Regions from separate parts of the Homo sapiens genome. Here all the other regions are linked to region 1. The links come from fine-mapping of genetic effects on gene expression. A gene starts in region 1. Each other region holds a variant in brackets. All regions are shown on one strand. Distances are from middle to middle.

Region 1 (5,672 bases):
GTCACCCCCCCTACTGGGGATTCCTCTGGGCTTTATTCACTCCCAGCCCTGGCCCTGACCTTTGTGGGCCTCCCTAATGCCCAGGGCATGGATGGCTTCAGAGGAGTTTTTGAATCGAAGCCCAGGGTCCTTGTTGATGTTTCTTCTCCTAGCCACACTTGGAGGAAAGTTGCAGGTGGGTTGGGCAGGGAGCAGGCATGGTTCTGCTTTGCTGTTTGTCTTCCTAGTTAAGGCTCTTTATAAAGAGCTTGTTCTTCATGTTTTAAGCACTTTATGAAGAATAAAACATTCATGTACTGCAGGTGGCTCTGTTGTGTTCCTGTTTTGGAATGAACAGTTACAGGAGGCTGCTGTGGGAGAAAGCACCTTAAATCAAGGTGATGGGATTCTTGGATGACACTGTCCCTGCCCCTTATAAGGGGGCAGCAGCACAGTGTTGCCCAGCAGCCTGAACTTAGTCTTTTCTGACTCCCAGGGTACCCACATTTATTGCGCACCTAAGATGGGCCCATTTATTGGTAATACAGAGGGTAAGAAATGGATTCCTATTCTCAAGTTGCATGGTCTAGCAGGGGAAGATAAGATACAAATCCAAGATACAAATAGTTCTTCATGGCTAGATAGAATCTCTAAGATAAGATACAAATCCAAGATACAAATTGTTCTTCGTGGCTAGCTAGAATCTCCCCCTAGCTTTATGAAAAGTGTTTCTTGTGGTTCAACTACTAGAGGATGAAAAACTTTGACTGCTACAGCTCATGTAGTGTCCAGAAACACTGGCAGACATGAGCCAACCCTGCACTCCACCACGAGACTAATGAGACCCAAAGTGGAGTTCCCTAGAAGACCAAATATTTCTACTGTCATCTTGGGCAAAACAGGCAGCTCCCGAAGTCTGGCTCACTGACCAGGTAATTCAGCTGGGAATCTTCAGCTAATCCATTCTACAACTGTATGTGTTTATTATCCATACTGATCCTTACTCCACAATCTGTAATACTCCCCCTTACCTAACACCCTCCCCACCCACCCTAGTCCCAAGTTCTCCTCCTGCCCAGGAATTAGGCCCAGGAGGGATCTTCCTTGGTTGGCCAGACAAGGTGAAAGCTGCCAGGGCTCTTAATCCCCCACTGATGAACTCACAGCCAACACTTATTTGAGTCTCTACTGTGAGCCCTTTTATGTCTGGCTCTGAAAACTGAAGTGAATCAAAAAGTCATAGCCCCTGCCCTGTGAACTTTACAGTAAGAAAGACTGTCCAGAACAGTAAGTAGTTGTGAGTGCAAAAGAGAAGTGCTGGGTGCCACGGAGCCTCTGTGGGATTTTGTGCAAGCAGAGTGATGGACTGGGAAATGCAATGTTTAGGCTAAAGCCAGAAAGCCAGCATCAGGCGAAGATTTAGTCTTCCGGGTACAGAATGTTCAGGGGTCGGGAGGCGGGCAGGCCCCAGCATGCTCCAGGAACTGAGTGTCAGGGCAGCCGGAGAGCACAGGACGAGTGGGCAGGGTGGCGACGGAGGAAAGTACGAGAAGGTCCGCAGTGCAACTCCTTGGAGAAAGCCTTCCGAGGTTAACCCTACTCCGCCTGGAGTCTTTGCCCATCTGGTCCCAGGTTCCCCCTTGAATGGGACCCTTCTGCGCTGCCTGGCCCCAGGAGCGACGCCCACGGCAGCAACTCTAACTTCTGGGGGCAACTAAGCAGCGAGGGGTGGCCCGTGGTCGTCGTACAGGAACACCTTTCCTGGACTGCCGACCTTGCACCTTGCAACGCGGACAGCGGGCACCGAGACCTCTCCGGACGGCCGCAACTCTCCGCAGTCTACGGTTGTAAGCGCCGCGACGCGAAAAACTACACTCCCCACAACGCCTTGCGCCTCCCGCTCGCTGCGGTTGATTAGGGCCAATCGGGAGAGGCAGCTGTGGCGGGGGCCGAGGAGGGACATTTTAAAAGGGCCGGAGATTGCGGGCGTCAGTGGCCATGGCGGATACAGCGACTACAGCATCGGCGGCGGCGGCTAGTGCCGCTAGCGCCTCGAGCGATGCACCTCCTTTCCAACTGGGCAAACCCCGCTTCCAGCAGGTGAGGACCGGGCTGTGGTCTGCGGGCCGGCGGGTGGCAAAGAGAGGACGAGCAAACTCCCCTCCAAAGTCCCCTTCCGCCCAAGGGTCTCCCACCCGCGGCCAGCGGAGCCTGCAGCTAGCGCCAGGGGGGGAACCTCGGTCACAGTCACCCTTTTCCCATTGGTCAACGGGGCGGGCGCGGACTCCCATCTTGGCTTCCTATTGGCCCTTGGCGCCGTCACTCCCCGACTGCCCGCGCCCTCTAGCCTTTCCCGCCCGCGGCGCCCTGTGATTGGCCACCGGCGGCTGCGGTCAAGGTCCCGAGCGCCCGGCTTCGAGCGGCTGCTCAGGGTCGCTCCGGGTTGTGCAGCTGCCCGCCCGGGACGCAAAGTTCTAGTCTGGCCCTGGATGGGAAGTTGGCGTGGCCGGGATGCCTTCTAACTTTTTCCCCCGGTGGGGACTGACGTTCCTTTCGAGCTGCTGGCGGTGCCGCCGGGCAGCGTCGCGCCCCGCGGTCACTCCCCAGCCCTGGCCCCCAAGCCGGGCTCGGCGCGCGCAGCAGGTTGAGGGGGCGAGTGCCGAGGCGAGCGGCGGTCCGGCGTCCCCCGTCCCTGCTCTCCATCTCGGGCTGAGGATTCGCTGACGCAGCAAGCCGGCCGATGCCCTGAGGGGACGCAGCCAGGGCGTGCGGGGGAAACGCTGTGTCATCCCCTGGGGCCGTCGTCCCTCCGAGGGGCTGCCGCCTGGGAACCCCCCCCCAGCCTCTTCCTCGCTGTGTTCTCCGCGGAGGGTCTCCCGCGCCCGGGCCCCCGCGCCGCCGGGGACTGGCTCTGGGCACACCCGCTCAGGCTCTTCGGGGCACGGCGACAGGGGTCCTTTCCCTCCGGGACCTCCTCTGGGGCGTCGCCGACTCGGCCCTAGACTGCGGAGGCGGGGGTGGAACGCGGAGCCCGGGCGCCTGGTTGGGCCCGGAGACCGGAGCCGGGGAGGGGCCGCTCCCGCGCCGCAGACCCTCGGGCTCCCGCGCCTCCCGCACCAATGAGACGGAATTTATTAGGAAACAGGCAGAGAGACCGCTGAAGTGAACCGGGGCTTGCCAGGGGTGGGCGGCAGCCGAGGCGGCCAGAAAAGAACTTTGAAGGAAGAAAGGAAATTGTGCTAAGGTCGGTGCGGTGGCTTTTTTTTTCTTTTTTTGTTGTTGTGGTGGAAGGGGACTGGTTCCAGCAAGGGGGTGCCCCGAGCTTTGCTGATAATTAGGGAACTTGGCTCCTGAGCCGTCTGAAAAAAATGTCCCCAGTGTTTCTTAACAGGACTTTAATTCCTTTTAAAAGTAGGCCATCTCAGCATGTAGGTATCCGAGGCGAGACTGGCATCTTCCTTCCAGTGTAGGAGGCCATCTAGGGCGAGAGTGTCGGGGTGTCCCTGCCTGGACTTGAGTGACCTTATTACATTGCCTGTCCCCGCTCCCACCCCCATTCTGCTCGTTCTTAAAGGCTCAGTCGGGCCTGCCTCTCTGGCAAACACTTGCTCCCTTCTTCTCTGGTCCCATCAGATCGCAGGCTTCCTCCTGCACATCTCTTTGGCCACCTGAGTCAGATCCTCATAGCTCTCCATACAGTCTGCCCTGTGGTCTTCTAAATGTTTGCTGTGTGACGACTTGGTTTCCTCAAACCCCCTGTAGGCCTTTTGCAAGAAGGGGCTGATCTTGCCCTTCTCTGCCTCTGTCTTACCCTGATGGAGACAGGTTAGGCATATAGTAATGTGCCGAGTAAAAGATTTGTGTTTCCTTTTTTTTTTTCTTTTTCTTTTTGTCCTGGTGTCTGTTATCTGTATGTGGCACTAGGGACATTCAGTGACCTAACAGACATTTATCAAATACGTCTTAGTGGCTTATATGACTGAGCCCTGTGCTGTGAGCACTGCTCTAGAGCCATAGATAAACATTTTAGGCTACCCTGTTCCTGCAGCCATAGCGGTACTTCTTTTTGGCACTGCTCTTGAAGGCAGTAAAAGTGTTTGTTGTATGCACTTTTGAAGCTCCCCTCCTCCAGCATAGTGGCCTGCATAAAGCACGTTGCATGTGATTCATCCATGTTAAGGATCTTCTCTTTCCTCCATATCTGCTCCTCCCGCATGGCTCCCTGGCTCTGCAAACAGCCCAACTTGCCACCCAATCAATGCAGCCAGAAACCTGGGAGCCGCCTGTGTTCTTTCCTTCTTCTCCCTCACCCTTTAAATGCAACCAGAGGCCCAGTGATCTTACCTCTTACACAGCTCTCAAGTCCACCCATCTCTACTGCCAGAATCCTAGACCAAGCCCCCATCGTCTATTTCCTGGGTCACTGCAGTAGCCTCACAACAGGTCTCCCTGCTTCCACTCTGGCCCTCTTCCAGTCCTTCCTCTTTCTGCAAGTCAGAGTCCCAACAGTGCAGATCTGATCAAGGGACTCCCTACGCCCTTGTAGATTTAAATACCCTCCAATGGCTTCCCCTGCTTCTGAGATAAAGACCTCACTTCTGAAGGGGCCCCCAAAGTATGCATGGCCCACCCCACTGACTACTTCTTCCTTGAATCCCACCACCCACCCACCCACACTTCGCACCCTCCTTCACATCACACTGGCTGCTTTTCAGCCTCTGAACCCACCACGTTCCCTCCCACCACTGGGCCATCTGCTTGGAACATCACCTCTTCCTCTACCCCCAACTCTTGTTCCCATTCTTCCTCATCCCTGGTGTATCCATGAAGCATCACTTTCTTGGAGAAGCCTCCTGCACTCCCAGGTTGGATTTTTGAGTGTTCGCTTACTGCAAAGTACCTTTCTCGGTGTATACATTGATTTGTGATGAGTATTTCTTTGCCATCTGTGTCTCTCTGTTGACTATGGACTTTGCAGAAGTGGGGGCTGTGCCTGTCTTTACTCCCTGTTGACTCTCCAAGGCTCAGCACAGTGCCTGGCAGTTAAGAGGTGCTTAATGAAGATTTGTTATATACATGAATATCCTGGAGACAATTCAGTAGGGCTTTGCGGACTTGAATTAAATTGACTTGTAAGGTTGTGACTGGGGAGGTGGACCAACTTTTCTCCAAATTGTCCCTTAGGGATCTTACAAAATTGCAAGTGGTGTCATGTTTGACAGTGTAAGGTTCATCAGTGCTGAGACATCCCAGAGTTGGGGTGTCTCTAAGGAGGTGAGTCTAAAGACACAAAGGTTGGCTACATATGTACTGGGTTGATGAGCTCCTTTAGGGCCCAGCCCACATCTCTGTGTCCTGCCCTGGCATGTAATAGTTGTGTAATATATATGCTCATAGTACCTTGTGCTGGCCTGACAGAAGCCTGCTTCAAGGTGGTTGATAATCCAGGGTTCATTCCCAGCACCCATGCCAGGGACATGACCCTTATTCCCCAATTAATCTCACCGCTTTCTGCAGGATTTGTTACCAAGGTCTTTCCTTATTCCCTGGAGTCGCTCTAGAACTCCTCTTTATTCCCTCAAGTGTCTCCCTGTGCAAGAGGACGGGCAGAAAGAGGGTGGAGGGTGTGGAGGGTCAGAGTGTGAAGAAAGGGTGATGAGTGTTGGTGGTCTGTGACCATCTTTCTCCCCATA
Region 2 (5,791 bases), 36 kb after region 1:
AGGCTGACACGTAGGTTTTCTCACCTTTTTTCTCTTCTATCCATCTCTATGGGCCAGAAGCGAGGGTAGGGCCTGGGGGATAGAGCAGGTAGGAAGCTGGATGAAGTTCCTGTCTACACCACCAGAAACCAGGCAGTGACAGTGAAAGCACATGATACCATGGGAGAGCCGTGGAAGGGGTGACCCTCCCAGACTGAGGGCATCTGGAAGAGATTTCTCCCCTGAGATATGAGGGCTGACAGGGCTGGTGAAGAGCAGGTGGGGGTGGTCCAGGCAAGGAGGTGCACACTGTGCTGGAGATCGAGGGAGCAAGACCCTACAGAAGGAGGGAATGGGCGAATGTGCTAGACTGGAGCATGGTGATGGGAATAGAGGGCAAATGCATGAGCGGAAGCAGCACCTTGGCCAGATGCCCCTGTGCAGGGCCCTGGGAGAGTGACAGACCCGCAGTGCCTGCTTACATGGGGCCCATCTGAAGGCGTGTGCACTGCGTGCTGAGTCATGGGCAGCCGTCAGCCGGGAGGGCAGGCTGCGATCTCCTCTTCCCTGAGCAATGGGACTTCTCTCTGGCCATGAGCACCTAAGAGCCTGGATGGTGTGACCTGGTACCCCACCCTACTCAGGCCGAAGCAGTCCCCAGCCCTTTTCGTGTTCTTCTGAGACCTGTGAGAGTTGGGTCCTGCCTCTATGGCCTCCTGACCATGTGTTTCCTCCTGGCCCAGGCTCCGCTCTGCCCTTTTCTTGCTGAGGTTGGCCTCTTGGGACCCCTTCCAGCTCCCAGAGTTTGGGGAATGAAGCCACATTTCCTCCTCTTTGCTCCCTTCAGTAGCTTGAAGCTGCCTGTCCTGTTTCCCAGGCCTCCTTTGTTTTCTGTCCTGAAAGCCCCCATGTGCCTCAAGGGAGCTGAGGAGGAGGGGAACTGGGTGGAGGGGCAGCTTGGCACTAACTGTGCTTCCCGATTCTGGCTCATGTTGGTGATGCCTGCAGTGTCCATCTGGTGGCTGGGTAGCACAGTGCTCTAGGTGTGAGCCTGCCACTATGGCCCCCTAGAGGCAGATCCTCCCTCTCCCTCCCTTCCCCCAGCCTCCTGGCTCCCCCAGCACCAGCTCTCACAAATGCTTCCCTCCCTGGGCTTCAGTCAGCCAATCTACACCTTCCTCTGGCCTCTGCAGACACAGGAGCAGAGGGGATAAGTGGTGACATGGCAGCTCAGGGCTTGGGGGGCTTGGCAATCCATAGTTAACAGTCACTGTTCCTGGCCCAGGCTGGCCCTGCTCATCTGAAGCGGCCCGGGTGGTTCTTGTTCTCAGTCTGGACAGTGGCCTCACCTGCACCTGGGCTCTGCGCCTGCTCTCATGCCTTTGCAGGTGTGTGGGCCAGAAGCCTGCAACTGGGTCCTGAGGCCTGCAGGCCTGTCCTGGTGTTGTGGGCAGTGCTGGTTAACTTGTGACACTCTCTTTTTTTACCCAGTTTGTCATCTAACCTGACCTCCAGGTACAACACCTCACCAGTGGGTATGCGCAAATGTATTGATTGTTTGTTTGCTCCTGATGGCCTTGGTTTGGTCTTCTGTTGTGGGTGGCTGCTCTCTCCTCCAGGGACCGTTACCTTGTTTAAAGGTTGCTATACCAGCCAAGCGTGGTGTCTCACACCTGTAATCCCAGCACTTTGGGAGGCCAAGACAGGTGGATCACCTAAAGTCAGGAGTTCGAGACCAGCCTGACCAATATGGTGAAACCCCATCTCTACCAAAAATACAAAAATTAGCCAGGCATGGTGGCATGCACCTGTAGTCCCAGCTACTCAGGAGGCTGAGACAGGAGAATCGCTTGAACCCAGGAGGTGGAGGTTGCAGTGAGCCGAGATCACAGCACTGCACTCCAGCCTGGGTGACAGAGTGAGACTCGGTCTCAAAAAAAAAAAAAAAAAAAAAAAAGATTGCGATACCAATGAATCACTGGTTCTGAGGACAAAATAAAAATGAGTATAATTTAACTTTTGGGTTTAGCAGGTGAAAATTTGAAGAGCTAGTAACCGTAATAAGGACTGTAGCTATCAGTTAAAAAAACAAAACCATGGTATACAAAAATGTAAGCATAGACACAGCCATTAAGTTTCTGAATGTTGACTCTGATCTGTACACTTGTATATGCTGGGGCTTTGCCAGAATGATTTGGTGTGGATGGAGGAGGTGGGTGGGGCTAAATATGGAAGACCCCTCCCCATGGTGAGCCACCGCTCGCTGCATGCTTACGAAGTGGCAGGTATTGCACCATAAGTACTAGCGCTTTCCACATATTATCTCAGCTAATCTTCACATAAACTTGTCAGTAGGTACCTGTATCAACCCAATTTTCCAGTGAGACTCAGAGAGGTTGCATTATTTTCCTAAGGTCACATAGCTAGTATGTGGTGGGGCAGGGATCTGACACTGGGCCTCTTAGATCTAATGGGAGAGACATCTTCTGTAAGTGACAGAGACAGAGAGAAGAGACAAGAAAGAGAAAGCTGGGAAGGAAGTTGGAGGTTACAGGCCAGATTGAGAAAGTCTTTGAAAACCAGGCAGAGATGCTGGATGCATTGTGTGGGGTAAGAGGAAGCTACTGAAAGCTATTGAGCAAGGGAGTAGCACGACAGTGGTATTGTGGTAGGATCAGTCAGTGGCAGTGCCAGAGTGCACTGGGGAGGAATAAGTGCTATTACGGAAATCAGCTCGGAAGCAACTGGAGTGATGGGGAGTGTGGGGAGCAGGTTACTGGGAACCACTGTAGCTCCTGAGTGGCTGGGCTTGTCCATCATTCAACATTCCCCAGAGGTTGGGAACCAGCCAACCTTTCCTAAGTGCCTACCCTGCACCCAGGGTAATGAATGTATGGATTGCTCAGAGCCCCCATGCAGGATGGATTTCTGTCTG[C/T]GACCTGCCTAGGAGAAAGAGCTGCTGGGATGCAAGAGATCCTGCAAGTCTTCTCTGGCAGGAAGGCAATGGGGTCAGCTGTGTTTGGGCTTTGCTGAAAATAACAGAGCAAATACCAGAGGCAGGCTTAAAAATACTTGTGCCCCAAGTCTTCTGTGGGCGTCAGCAGGTTTGTCAGATGCCGAAGGGAAGGCTTGGCTGACCCACTAGTCTTACCCTGACTCCTAGCATCAAGCTCTGGGGATCCTGGTCAGCACCCTGCCCCTCTGGGCCAGGCCCAGCATGGCCCTAACTGGTAGCACAGAACAGGCAAGTGATCAGTAGGAGGTGAGTCATTTGTATGATGTGCTAGGTGTCGTACTGAGTGCTGTAGATGCATTTGTGGGCTGGGTCCCTGCAGTGGCCTCCTGGATGATCTGCCTATACTACCTGGGCTCCTCTGTCCATTGCTGATACAGCACACAGAGTGACCTGTGAAATTATACAGGACATTGTTTGTTCCTCTGCTCCAGGGTTTCTCAGACTTGGCACGATTGGCATTTGGAGCCAGATTATTCTTTTTTGCGAGGGCTGTCCAGTGTACTGAGGGTGTTTAGCAACCTGCCTGGCTGTGACCCAGTAGATGCCATTAGCTTCCCCTCCCCAGTCATGACAATCAAAAATGTTTTCTGATGTTGCCAAATGTCCCCTGGGTGCAAAATCCACCTCCTAGTTGAGAACCACTGCTCTAATAGAAACTATAGTGTTCCTCTTTTGCACTTAGAGTAAAAGCCATAGTCCTTAACCTGGCCTGCAAAGCCCCCAGTCCTCTCTGATCTTGTCTCCTACTGCTCTCCCCTATTTGGTCCACTGCAGTCACACTGGTCTCCTTGCTGTCTCTCAAACATACCAGACAGGCCCACTTCTGCCTCAGGGCCTTTGCACTGGCTGTTCTGTCTACCAGAGCAATCTCCCACTAGATAGCTGCATGACTCATTCTCTCCTTCAAGTGTTTCCTCCAATATCACCTCAGTGAGACCCACCCTGACTATCTTACTTATGTCTGTAATCTCCATCTCTGCCACCTGCTCACACTTGCTATCCTCTTGTCCTGGTCTATTTTCCCTAGTTTCCTGAAGCACTTTTCCTTCTAACATATCAGAAAATGTGCTTATTTATTGTTTGTGTTGCTTATCGTTTGTCTGTCTGTGCAACCCTCTAAACTCAACAAAAGCAGAGATTTTGGCCTGTTTTTGTCACTGATGTGTCCTTAGCACCTAGAGCAGTGTTCAGCACATAGTAGATGCTCAATAAATATTTGTTAAATAAGTAAATTTGTTAAATTAATTATTAATTTTCACAATAACCTTGAAAATATTCACATCCTCATATTACAAATGAGGAAGAGGAGGCTCAGAAAGATTAAGCGTATTGCCCTAAATCACATAGCCAGCAAGCGGGAGATCTAGAATTTAAACCCAGGTCTGGATAGAAACAAACTGCGTGTATAGGGAAGTTGCAACTGCTGCTGTGTGCTATGCTGCAGAACTAGGCGAAGAGTCCCTCTTCTTTCGTGAGTCTGTAGAATTGGGGGTACCCTCACCTGACATAGACTTGCAATAGGTACATATTACCTGGGAGTAACCATGGCAACAAAATTAATGGTGAGGTATAATGCGATTGGCCCAACTGATAAATTAGGAAGTTTTTTTTGTTTGTTTTATGGAGGCATTCTTTGCCTTACAGAAGGATCCCCTTCAGGCTCTGTTTAATTACCTTCTGGAGGTTGTTTTAAATAGGCTCTGTCTTTGCTGCCTTGGGAGGTTTGGAGAAGCAGCTTGGAAGGAGGCAGAGGGGAAGGGGAGCGAGCCAGATTGGGGGTGGGGCTGGGCTGTTCCTCCTCCCTCTGGGTGTTGGGGGTGTGCCCCGCTCTGCCCGAGAAGGCCAGTTGGTGAGTGTCCTCTGCCCCTCCCTTGGACTCTACACCGAACTTCAGGTAGGTTCAGATGGCACTTCAGCTGAGATGCTGGCTGTTTTTGAAATTAGCCAACTTCTGGGATCTTCCAGCCACCTCTCACCCGGATTGCTTCTCCACACCTGCTCCATGTTCTTATTTACCAAGTTGAGAAATCAAGCAAGGTTCAAAGTCTCATATCCACACTGATTTGTTGTTGGAGCCAGTAAGTCCCAAGGGATCAAAGCTGCATATTTTTATGCTCAGCAGAGGCACAGAGGAGATGGGCTGAGCCCACACAAGATGAGGTCTTAAGCAGGAATTGTAGTTTAAAGTGGAGATGCTTCAGTGGTCTAGTGAGAAGACGTTGAACTCTTGATATCCTAGGATGTCCCGTCGAACTCTTGACACCCTAGGATGATCCTCCCCCATCACCTGTTTGCAGGACTGGCTTGTGAAACTTCAAACTAGCAACCAGCTCTTGGCTTGTGGGTGGTACATTACCTGCTGCCATTTTTGCATCTGACATTTAACCCCTTAAAGTCAACATTTAATCCAGCAGGTCCTAGGGAAAAGCCTAGACCCAAGGAGTCAGACCTGAGTCCTTGTCCTGTTCTCCCTCTAAGCTGGGCGTGGCCTCATACACCGTAGGACAGGAAGGGGCCCTGGAGAGACTTGCTTCTACCTCCTGTCCCTGCTTCTGCCTAATTTTAAAAATAATACAAGTCCAAGCTGTGAGGTAACTTGCACAGGCAGGCTATGTAAGTTAGTGACTGAGAGAGGGCCAAAGTCCATGATCCTGACTGTTGTCACTGCAGCCTGGTGATGGGATCAGCCCAAACAAGATCAGATCATGACTAGGAATTTTTGTTGAAAATGGAGATGTTCCTCCCAACTCACCCCAAAACCTCTGAGTCTGGTGTGTTGTCAGATGCCTCAAGAAG
Region 3 (5,791 bases), 73 kb after region 1:
TAACACCAGCACAGCCCTGGGCAAACCAGGACGGTCAGTCATGCTGACCGGCAGCATGGGCGGCACCATGTGAGCTGGAGACCGCATGCTGTGCCTTTCTGGGGATGTGTGGCCTCCTGGGGTCCAGGCCTGGCTTCCAGGGAGGTGACCACTCCTTCCCTGACTTCTCTCATCATTGCCTTTCAGTGGCTGAACCAGAGCCACAATGCCTGTGTCAACTATGCAAACCGCAATGCGACCAAGGTGAGCATCACTGCCCTCTCCCCAGTGGTGGGGTTCAGGCTAGGGAGGCCCAGTCATCCTCCCTACAGCGTGACATGCCACCATCAGTGGCTGCCTCTTGGTTAAGCATGGCCCTCCTCTAGATATCTTATTTAAAATGCCAGCCCTTCAGGTGGGTGGCCGACTCAGACATGACTCAGCTGAGGTCAGCTGCAGTTTCTGGGCCAGGAGCCCTCTGGGGAGGGGCTGTTTACATGAAGTGAAGAAGGCCCATTAAATGGGAGCAGTGCAAGGGATGAGTTCGGCTGGCTTTCAGATTCTTCTTGGGTAGCTCTTACATTTGGGTTTTGGATCATGATGGTATCAGCTACTTGGGGGCAAAATTCCCATAAAGCTTCCTCCAAAATTTCTGGAAGCTGCCTTAGCGCTCCCAGGTCCCGACTGCTGGCCACAAGCTGAAGGGCTGCTCCTGAGTGGGGAGGGTCCAGGGCTGGTAACTCCCCCCCAGAGCCCCTGCACTCCTTGGAGAGCTTGTGGTGGAGGCCCAGTCACCCTTCTGTTGTCCAGGAAGGGCTGCTGGGCCCCTGCTTTGCTGGCAAGGCCACCTCTCCCCAACTTCAATTCAAAGGCAAAGAAGGCAGGATGCATCTAAGTCCCCTTTGGGGGCCTGTCAGTTTGGGGTAGAGGAGAGTCCTAACATTTGCTCACCTTGGGGGAGAGGAGGGGAATAGGAGCTGGCCTGGGCCATAGGAATTGAGAGGCCTGATATGCTGTGGCTGCCCCCTGACATCTAAACCTCCACCCCAAGTCTCTCTCATAGGCTTCACATATGGCCATCTCTGCTTGGATGACTCCCTTTATCTTAAACCAGACACTTCTAGACCTGCAGTTGTAGCACAGGGCAAGTTCCTTAGCTTTTTCTTAATTGTCTGTGTTGGAACTTGGGGTATATTATTCTCTAGAGATATTGGGCAGCTATCATCTGTTGACATGGGAGCCCAGCTGTTCCATGGGCTGGCAAGGCCTGTGAGAGCCTTGACACTGGCATTTCCACCTAGAAAGCGCTCCAGATGCCAAATGGCCCCCTTGAAACATTTAGCCTCTAAACTGAAGACTGCTTGCCCCAGCCTTCAATGGTCCATGTTAGCCTTGCTGTTCTCCACCTCCACCCAGCACTGTCTGCCAGTGACCTTTCTAGAACAGGGCAGGAGTGAAGTGGGCCCTTCAGTATCTCCCTGGATACTGGTGATTTATATTTCTGCATTGGGAACTGAGCTGAGGGTGGCCTGATCCCTTTGAGTCCTGAGGGGCCTCTTCCTTCTACCCACTTTCCAGGCTGGTGGGCAGGATGCTTCTTGCTGGCTGGGACAGCTTACAAGGGGAAGTATGGGAGCTTTGGGCACCCAGCAGGCCTGAAATTCTGCCTCTGTTTTCCAGCCTTCACCTGCATCCAAGTTCATCCAGGGATACCTGGGAGCTGTCATCAGCGCCGTCTCCATTGCTGTGAGTACTCCCTCCCCTGCTCCTTCTTGGCTCTGCTGCTCTGGGGCCACCCCGCTCAGCATTGCAGGTGGATGCTTGTCTGAGGGCCAGGCCAGGCAAGGATTTGGGAGACAGGTTTCTGTGGGTGGAGGAGTCAGGACAGGCTTTCCAAGCCGAGAAGAGGCTCCAGTAGACAGAGCACAACCTGGTGCTCCCTGTAATGGAGAGCAGGTGGGGAGGTGAGGTTGTGCCTGGGGGCACTGAGGCAGGACATCTGTCTTGAGTGGGGCTGCGGTTGCCCAGCACTCTGCTCGGAAGAGCTGCTCCTCATGCTCGGTAACGTGGCTGGAGCGAGCGGGGTGGGGGGATGCCTCTGAATGACTCTGCAAGGCCTGCCCATGTGCCTGCTCCCCTGAGCTCTTGCTCAGCTGCCGGGGCACTGCTTTTCCCTCTCTATGGCCTTACTGGTGTCACACGTCCAGCTCTTCCTGAAGACCTGTCAGTGCCCGAAGCCAGGGGCGTTAGGCTCACT[C/G]TGAGTCTCCACAGTACTTTGAGGCCAGAGCAGCTACTCAGTAGGGGAGGTTCAGAGACTGAGCGTGAGGGTACGGCAGGTGTGGCTCCCTGCTTCCCAGAGGAGGCCAGGGGCAAGTGACACAGTCAGGGCCCTGGGCCAGAGCCAGAGTGGACGCTCAAGCTGCCAGGACCTTCTGCATGCTTGTCCCACCCCTGAGCCCGCCCCTGTACCTACGTCTGGCTGTCTCTGGATCCCCACTAGGATGGCCTTCTATAGCCGACTCCAGAGGGCGAAGGGCCCCTTCACAACTCTGTCATTTCATCCATTACACAATACATTAATGTAACTGGTAAGAAAAAAAAAATTAGAAAATGAAAACCAAACAACATTCACATAGCTGAGCACAGTGGGGCACACCTGTAGTCCCAGCTACTCAGGAGGCTGAGGTAGGAGGATCATTGAGCCCAGGTGTTGGAGTCTGTAGTGTGCTATGATTGCAGCTGTGAACAGCCACTGCACTCCAACCTGGGCAACATAGCAAGACCCCATTTAAAAAAACAAAAGGCCGGGTGCAGTGGCTCACGCCTGTAATCCCAACACTTTGGAAGGCCAAGGCGGGAAGATCACCTGAGATCAGGAGTTCAAGACCAGCCTGGCCAACATGGTGAAACCCCTGTCTCTACTAAAAAAAATACAAAAATTAGTCTGCATGGTGGTGGGCACCTGTAATCCTAGCTCCTTGGGAGGCTGAGGCAGGAGAATCGCTTGAACCTGGGAGGCAGAAGTTGCAGTGAGCCGAGATCACGCCACTGCACTCCAGCCTGGGCGACAGAGTGAGACTCCATCTCCAGAAAAAAAAAAAATAAATAAATAATAAAAAATTTAAGAAATTAAAAAACCCCAAAACCATTCAGCTGGGCAAGCTGGTGTGCCCCTGTAATCCCAGCTACTCAGGAGGCTGAGTTGGGAGGATTGCTTATGGCCATGTTGGGCAGCATAGCAAGATCTTATCTCTAATGAAAAAGAAAACATTCACATATAATGAAGAATTCACATACAATAACCTTTTGGTAAAACCCCCTTTGCTCATCTTTCCAGTGCCATTAAGTAAATACTGTATAATAACTGTTCACGGCTGTATAATTACCCATTGTACCATACGCCACAATTTAATTCACCATTCTTCTAAAGGAGGGACTTGGGGTTGTCCTGAAATGGCCTCATTTATTTCACTCCCACATAGACCAAGTCATCTCCAAATAGCTGTGAAGTGGGATGTCCCATTTCATGCCCAAGATCTCTTTCCCAAATCCTTATGTCTTCACAAAAGCAAGAAGTGAGACATTCAGGTGGCTCACCAAGAGACTGCTGACCTGCCACCCAGCTTGTCCTGCAGCCCAGCAGGAGACTTCATTTGGGAGTCAGACAAATTGGGGGTCCCTGATACTGGGGACTTGGTGGGTGAAGGCCAAAGGCTCCCCTGAGTGGGAGAAAGAACTCTTGTCACCTCCTCCTTGTTCCTTGTGATGAGAGGAGCTGATGGTCTGCTTAGCTTAGCAGCTCAAAAATCCCCTTCCTTTTTTTGAGACTCAGGGGCAAGGTGAGAGGAGGAGGCTACATAGGGAAGGATGCTGAGTGGCCTTGAATGGAAAGGCCTGAGTGAAGGGGATCATTGTCCTGGTGGACTTCCTTCACCTGCAGGCCTGGGGCTCAGAGAACAAGAATCAGCTTCTCAGCCTGAGTAACATAGCAAAACCCCATCTCTACAAAAAATACAAAAAAAATTAGGTGTGGTGGTGCACACCTGTAGTCCCAGCTACCTGGGAGGCTGAGGTGGGAGAATCATTTGAGCCTGGAAGGTCGAGGCTGCAGTGAGCCACGATTGTGCCCCTGCACTCCAGACTGGGCGACAGAGCAAAACCCTGTCTCAAAAAAAAAAAAAAAAAAACAAAACTCAGCTTTTTCTGAGAGCTCCGAGCCCTCTGTGTGTCCAGTCCTCACTGCCCCACCTGAGGGACCATCAGCCGCTCCGTCCCAACCACTTGCCAGGGCAAACCTAGCACAGATTTGTGGGGTATGGGTTCTGAAGACAGAGTTACTGGGGGACTTGGAGCCCTCTGGGGTTCCCAGAGCTGAGCTCTTGCTGGGCAGGGGCTGGGGCCTCACGCGGGGCTGTGCCTGTGCTGGGGACTCCCTCCTTTCTCCTCCCTGTGAGCTCCAGCACCCCTCGAAAGGCTTTCCCCAACCATTCCAGCCCATAGCACTCTCCCTCCTCACAAGTCCTGGAAACTCCTGTCCTCCCCACTCACACTCAGTCGCACTGTGTCCCTGTCCCCTTAGTGTTCTGCAGTCTGAGCCTCATCCCCACTGGATTACAAGTTAACCAGGGACGGGCACCATGGCTTCTCCCCCATGGAGAGGAGCACAGGGCACTGCCCCATAAATACTTATTAATTAGGCCACTGATTGATCGCTGGCCTTGAGGCCCCTCCGATCTGCGAGTCCTAGTGGTGGCGGCGTCCCTCCGCCTGACGTCTTCACACAGTGAGCGTCTAACTCCGGCAGATGGAGTGGAGTTTCTGACTTGGAAAATCGGCAGCTTGCTTGCTTTTCTTTTGTGTGTGTAAGTCACAAAACCTCTGAAGAAAGAGGCTTTATTTTATTTTCCTTTCCCTTGTTCTCTGGAACCCCAGGTCCTACAGCCTCATTAACTGATCTCTGTTTCAATTAGTGACAAATCCCCTCCCAGGGCAAGCCTGTTAGGAGGAGATGACCTGCAAACAAGTGTCACGGCCCCAGTGGTTGGCCCAGCTCTGGCATTAATTAAAACGAGTCCCTACAAGCAGGCGGCATGGATGGGGGCCGACAGGCTGCAAGCAGGTCCTTGGGACAGAGGGCAAACTGGAGTGGAGGCCAGCCTCCTCTGGGGGCCCTGAAGAGCTCCCTGCCCCACTCAGAGGAGCCCTGACCTTGGCCAGCAACCCTGGAGTCAGGGATCCCCAGTTTGCATGCCCCCAAGTGAAGACTCCTGCTGGTTGCAGGACCACCAGGGTGGGATTAGCAGCCTCTTGGTGAACCTTCTAAATAGATTTGGCAATGTCTGGCTGCTTGCTTGAGAATAAAAAAGAAATCCCGTCTTAAGTTATTTTTGAAATCTAACAGTTTGCTGTCTTTTAACAAAGGAAGCCTCTCTCAATCCTCACTGTTTTTTAGTTCAAGAGTTTGCATTAAGCACTTCTGTGGGCGGCCCTCCCTGGGCCCCGGCTACACGAGGGTGAGAGGAAGTAAGAGACATTGACTCCCATCGGGGGACTGTGATGTGCGGGTACTTTGCAGGTGCTGGGGGCTTCAGGGACTGGTATATCTTTCAAGGCACTGAGAGGGGAAGCTAGAAGGCTCTGTGGTATAATCAGAATTATGATGAAGGTGACCCCAGGGTGTGGTGGGAGCAGGGAGGGGCCCCTACTTCACACAGGGCTGACTCGTAGGACAGAATGGAGAGAGCCAGGGGCAGGCAGGGTGGGTGTTCCAGAGAGAGGGCACCGTACAAGCAGAGGTGCACAGGAGAGCATG
Region 4 (5,791 bases), 81 kb after region 1:
GTGCCCTCACAAACCCCTAACCTTGGTTACATTATTATCTACCACCCAAGAGGGGCCCTCCTTTTAGGCGTGCCCCTTACTCCATTGTTCTTCAGGGCTATTTGGACCCCCATAATGACTGATGCAATAGAGTCTGTAGACTGTCGTCTGAGTACCCCGCAGACAACCTGGTATTTCATGCTTCTGATCCTTGGCTGAGCCCTGCTCCCTTCCTAGCCTCCTATTCAGGGCTCAGGCAGGCATCCCCTTCCTCAGGAGCCTTCATGACCCTTGGGCCCACTCCCTCACGGCACCTCCTCATACAGGTAGCCAGAGCCTTGCAAGCAAGCCAGGCAGTCCCGCAGGGCCGTGTGGCTCCTCCAGTGTCACCGAAGGCTTTAAGCAAGTCGCCATGTTTTCAGACTTCACTCCGACTGCTGTAGAGAGCAGATGGATGGGGGCAAGAGTGGAAACAGGGGGCCTGGTTAGGAGGTGCACTGTCATCCAGGGACAGAGGCTGCGTGCTGAGTGTTGGGAGCAGGGAGAGCAAACAGCTGCATTCATGACATCCGGGAGATGCACCAGGGAGCCATGGTTACACGTGGGCCCCAGGAGGCTCCTGCCCAGAACGCTGTGAGGTCTCTGGCATGAGAAGCAGAGCTGGAAATGGGCGAGGAGGCTGGGGTGTGGGTGAGGAAGAACGAGACAACCTTCATTTGGGGTGCGAGAAGCTGGAGTGCCTAGAGCCCTTGGACACAGAGGCATCCTCCAGGCAATGGATATTCAGGCTGCAGTGGGGGCACAGATGCGGGGAGAGGGATGCAGGCATTCTTCCAGCCTCATCCAGTGTCTCCTTGCTGGCCTGTTGTTGGCCCGGAAAGCCCTTGGTACTTAAGGCTACAGCCACCAGCTGTGTAGCTCATGACACTAAAGATTTGGTGTCATGAAGCTCCCACCCCACCCATAGCTCCTGGTGCTGGTCAGCCCTGTTCCCATCTCCGTGGGGACTATCAGGAAGCCGGCCTTCCCTCCTTTTCCCCTGGTCTCCTGTCAGCTGCTCATGGCAAATTCACTGGCCCAGTAGCCAGACCTTGGAGATAGGTGGTCAAGAAGGCCTATTCCCTCCTTCAGGATGTTGCTGATGTCCTGTGGGGCCTGAGCCCTGGTTTTCCAAGAAGCCCTGTCTGCTGGCCATATAAGAAATTCTTGTGCAAAATCCACACCCTGTTTGTTTTCCCCATCTACCAAAATGGAGCTCCTGTTTGGTTAATTTCTATTTTGTGGCTTATTTGGATGCTGTTAAAACAGATCCTGGGGGACCCTCAGCAGTAATTGTTCCACATCTCATTATCTTTCCTGAACCCGATTATTAGCTCTGATTTTTCTGATCGCTAGCTGCTGTTTGTGATGAGCTGTGTGCCATTAATACCAGCTGGTTCCCTTAAACAGGACCCGCCGTGCCAGGGAAAAACGAGCTGGCATTCAGAGCCACCAGCCTCTTGGCTTTTTAATTTTAACGGGCTCTACCAAATGTTCAAGGCCAAAGGGCCCTGAGGAACCAGAACAGACGGGCTCCTAACCCCTGGTCTGCAGCCATCTTGGGTTCCTTCTCAGGCCGTGGCTGTCCTAGGTGCTGGGGCGGTAAGACCTGGGCTGGGGCCTGGGAAGGGGTGAGGGTAAGTGGCCATTTGCCTTTTCCGTGTCCACGCCCTCCCTGCCACTGGGCCCATCACTGGCAAGTGGGCACTGTGACCTCACTGACTCCTCATGAGCTCACAGCTACACACATGCCCAGGTCTCCTCCCTACTTTGCTGGTCCCCAGCCCCTTTCTTGGGCGCAGGCACGTTGGCCATGCTCTCAGAAACATATGTGTGCCGCACTATATGTCACCCCATCCATGCTGGGAGACCCTGGTGACTTTCAGGGAAGGAGAGGCCAGAAGAAACCTGGGACGAGGACACTGTTTTCTCTCTTCGTTCTTCCTCCCTACACTCTGGGCTGTGCCAGGCCTAGCCAGTGGGAAGAATGGCCGACCAGGGAGGGGGAGGCTTTGGAGAGGGGGAGGGAAATGTGATGGTCACCTTTCCTCCTTTCCCTCCCGCTGCTCTCCAGCCCTGCCTACCCCCAAGAGGCTGTCATGGGGAAGGGTCCCAGCCTCTCTGCTCACTTCCGTGAATGGCTCCTGTTCCCCGCCTCTTCCAGCACTTCCTATATCTTCTTAAATTGTCAAGCAGGATTTTGAACCCAGATCTTCTGACTTCTGGCTGCTGGGGGCAGGGATGGTTCAAGGGCCCTATCTTCCCTGCAGGAGCTGCCTTCTGTTTTCCACTCGTTAGGACCCCAGCCCCAAGGTGGCCATTGTCAGGGAGGTGCTTGCTATGCAGATGTGCCGTTCAAACGCCTGGAGATATTAAAGCATCCCTCCCTCAGGTGGAAGACAATGGGAAAGTCATAGCACCCTGGTTAGGAGCAAGGCTTTGGAATTAGCAGGCCCTGCGTTCAAATGCTAGCTTTACTTGCCTCATAATAGATGTCTATCCTTGAGCAAAGTTGTTTAACCTCTCTGGACCTGTCTCTATCTGTGAAAAGGGCCAACATGGTCTATCTAAAAGCCTTGTTGTGGGGATCTCATTAAGATATTTCATGTGAATATGTGCTGAGTGGCCTCACGTAGGAAGTGCTCACTGAGTTCTCCCGAGCCCCCCTCCTCTTCATTGCTACTGCCCGTCTGCGTGTCCTCCAGCTTCCTCCCACACTTTCTCTCAATGCACTTTTTTGGGGGTGAGGGAGGCCATTTCTGAGTCACTCGCTCCTGGACTTGATGAATTCTATTCATGTGGCGGGGGCAGCAGGGCCCAGTATGAGCCGGCAGCTCCCCAGCCCTGCCCACTGTACCACTGAAGTGTGTCCACGCCGTGATGCCCCTGGCTGCCTCCCAGCCTTCCCTCGAGCGAGCTGGGAGGACAAGGATTGGACTCTGAGGATCAGCCTGAGACTTAAGATGGAGGCTGTGTTCCCGAGAGCCCAGGGTGGGCATGCCAGGAAGTACTCTGGCTCCACGGAATGCTGCGCTGCCCCGGGGCTGGCGGACCAGCACTTCCTTGTCTTCCTGGGTCTCACAGTCGCAGCCTGGGCTGGGCTGTTTCTGCCTTGCTGCACCCTGCCCCAACAGCGGCAGGCGCCTGGCAGCCCTGGAGGCCTTCCCAAGGCTCTGCGTCCTCCCCAACCACCCACAACATTAAGGCCAGAGCCAGGCCTGAGGGCACAGGGTGGGCTGCTGAGCCGCCAGGCGTGCCAGACCTCAGAGCAGGCTGCCCCGGCCCGTCAGGCC[A/G]GGAGTCCTGCCACGGCTCCTCCCACGCTTCCCAGAAAAGACAGCACAGGGGCTGGCTTTGGCCTCTGTCTGGGGAAGCAGAGGCCTCTGCAACCCAACTCCTTTTCTGGTTTCATGCATCTTGTCTTTTCTCTCTCCAGGCCTGCACTTGTATGCATTTCTCCACCAGAAAGTCCTTTTCCTCTGCCTAGCCCAACCCCATCTTTCTCTCCTCCGCAAAGCCCCACTCCCAGCCTTTGCCTTTTCCATGCCGTCGTATGTTTGTTGGTTCCTGCATTTATTCCTCAGTCACCAGTTTATTGAGCGTGTACTATGTGCCAGTGAGTGTAGCCCTAAGTGGTGGACATACAAAGATGAAAAAGGTGCAGTCACCCCATCCGGTCCCGTGACATCATGATTATATAGCTTCATTTATTGAGGTCTCTTATATGCCAAGCTCACACCCACCACTTACATACATTCTTATACCAGCCCTGGGGTGTTGTAGGTATTACTATCCCTTTTTACAGATAGGTAAACTGAGACAGAGAAAGATGAAATGACTTACCTGCCTCAGGTCCCACTGCTAGTAAGTGACACTGGAGGTGGAACTCATGGGTGGGCCTGAAAGAACAGGTGTGAACTGAGCGGAGGAGGGAGGCATCCCAGGCACAGGGACCAGCACTGCAAAGGCCCCATGGCTGGAAGGCTCACGGAGGATCTGATGGGCAGCAAACTGGACTCTCGGGGTTGAACTTGGGTTTTTGGGGGAGAGGGGAAGTGAGGTTATGGAGGCCAAGGCTGCTGTGGGAAGGAGATGACACTTTCTCAGACACGTTGGTCATAGAGAGGAGCTGGTGTGGCACACATGAGAAAGCCTGTGCTCTCGAAAGATGAAAGAGCCTAGGAGATGGACTGGAGTGACGAAGACCCCAGGCAGGGGCTGGGGTGGGGTGTCTGGCATCCTGGGCCAGGTGACAGGTATGAAGGCGATGACAGTGAGTCCAGGACATCCGCCTCACCCTCCATCCTGCCCTGAGCTATGCTGCTTAGTCCTGCAGCCTGTGGGCAGGTGTCGGGGTCTCCCTGTCCTGAGCCCTTATGGTCTGGCTGGGCCCACACCTGCATGTACCATGGGGTTTCAGAAAGATGGTGCTTAGGGCTGGGGTGGGAATGAGGCCTTCCTACACTTCATTTATTCATGGAGTATGTATTCTTCTACGAGCAACTGCCACAGCATCCTATCCCTTTTCTCCTCTGCAGTGTGTGTGTATGAGTGTGTAAATGTGTGTGTATGTGTGTGTGTGTGTGTATGTCTCTGATGCTTTACCTCTCTCCCTCTTTCTCATGGGCCAGTTACCTGGGATGACTGGGCAGTGGTACTTTAAGCAGCGACGCTGGAGCTCTGCAACCTCAGGTGACGCTGAGGATTAGGGGTGTGAGGTGCAGTTGTGGGGAAAGATGACATCCCTCACTCTCTGATGTTCCTCCAGTTCTGCCCCCTCCTCCCACAAGCCACTGCAGCATCATGTACTTTTTCTGTGTTTTTATTTTTTTCTTTCAAAGGTGGGCCTTAATGTCCTGGTTCAGAAAGCCAACAAGTTCACCCCAGCCACCCGCCTTCTCATCCAGAGGTTTGTGCCGTTCCCTGCTGTAGGTAAGACCTGCACACCACATAGATGTGTGCTGTGGGTGGGTGTGGGGGACCGCTGGGCTCCCAGGGAGACAGATGACCCTTCCACACCTCTCCTGATGCCCAGGGGGCACCCAGCTGGGAGAATTGGTGTAATATGTTTAGCTAAAAGACAAGACCATGGGGTCCCACTGACCAGCTCTGTGCTGAGATTCTGCTTTCAGCATAGGGGTTCTTAGGCTGCAGTCCCAGACCCCCAAGGGGTCAGTAGACAGAATGCAGCGGATCCTGTGAGCTTGGTCAGGGAAAAGATTTACATTAACCTCTAACTGCATTTTAACATTTCCTTCCGTTACGAATGCAGGCAGCAAACCACAGTCAGAAGCAGGACCTGTGACTTTGTCACCAGTAGAAATCACAGATGTTTTCATGGCACATTACAGTTGTTACAGAGGTCTTAAAATATTATTTATGCTCAACACTAATTCATATTTTCTTTCTTTTTTCTTTTTCTTTGTTTTTCTTTGAGTCAGAGTTTCACTCTTGTCACTCAGGCTGGAGTATGGTGGTGCAATCTCGGCTCACTGCAACCTCCACCTCCCAGCTTCAAGCAATTCTCCTGCCTCAGGCTCCCAAGTAGCTGGGATTACAGGCATGCGCCACCATGCCCATCTAATTTTGCATTTTTAGTAGAGATGGGGTTTCACCATGTTGGCCAGGCTGGTCTCGAACTCCTAACCTCATGATCCACCTGCCTCACCCTCCCAAAGTGCTGGGATTACAGACGTGAGCCACCATGCCCGGTCACTAATTCATATTTAATACATCAACTGATAGATCTTGTTTTTAATTCATTAGTTAAAAAGCA

Which allele goes with the higher level. Alleles are on the strand shown, and positions count from the first base shown. SD is a standard deviation of normalised expression in the study named.
In carriers of allele C in region 2, the expression in esophagus mucosa of the gene that starts at base 1,971 in region 1 tends to be higher than with T alone (moderate effect, 0.69 SD a copy in GTEx).
For the expression in unexposed skin of the gene that starts at base 1,971 in region 1, C is the high allele of the variant in region 3 and G is the other (large effect, 0.82 SD a copy in GTEx).
For the expression in tibial nerve of the gene that starts at base 1,971 in region 1, G is the high allele of the variant in region 4 and A is the other (moderate effect, 0.46 SD a copy in GTEx).

Evidence for each region.
Region 2: its variant is fine-mapped to the expression of SFXN5 in esophagus mucosa (GTEx, PIP above 0.99).
Region 3: its variant is fine-mapped to the expression of SFXN5 in unexposed skin (GTEx, PIP above 0.99).
Region 4: its variant is fine-mapped to the expression of SFXN5 in tibial nerve (GTEx, PIP above 0.99).

The regions. Positions count from the first base shown.
Region 1 is chr2:73,068,011-73,073,682 of GRCh38, reverse strand. It overlaps SFXN5 (sideroflexin 5), which reads left to right and starts at 1,971. Exons shown (of 14, transcript NM_144579.3): 1 at 1,971-2,079. The coding sequence starts at 1,978. RAB11FIP5 (RAB11 family interacting protein 5) reads left to right here. Exons shown (of 6, transcript NM_001371272.1): 6 at 1-301. RefSeq lists enhancers at 1,373-1,852, 2,053-2,102 and a silencer at 2,243-3,032.
Region 2 is chr2:73,031,639-73,037,429 of GRCh38, reverse strand. All of the region lies in intron 3 of SFXN5 (sideroflexin 5), which reads left to right. Among named protein-coding and RNA genes, the nearest start is that of SFXN5, 37 kb to the left of the region's middle. RefSeq lists an enhancer at 1-806. The variant C/T (reference allele first, on the strand shown) is at 2,915.
Region 3 is chr2:72,994,883-73,000,673 of GRCh38, reverse strand. SFXN5 (sideroflexin 5) reads left to right here. Exons shown (of 14, transcript NM_144579.3): 8 at 187-243; 9 at 1,660-1,725. Among named protein-coding and RNA genes, the nearest start is that of SFXN5, 74 kb to the left of the region's middle. The variant C/G (reference allele first, on the strand shown) is at 2,237.
Region 4 is chr2:72,987,414-72,993,204 of GRCh38, reverse strand. It overlaps SFXN5 (sideroflexin 5), which reads left to right. Exons shown (of 14, transcript NM_144579.3): 10 at 4,857-4,947. Among named protein-coding and RNA genes, the nearest start is that of EMX1, 73 kb to the right of the region's middle. RefSeq lists a silencer at 3,906-4,105. The variant A/G (reference allele first, on the strand shown) is at 3,312.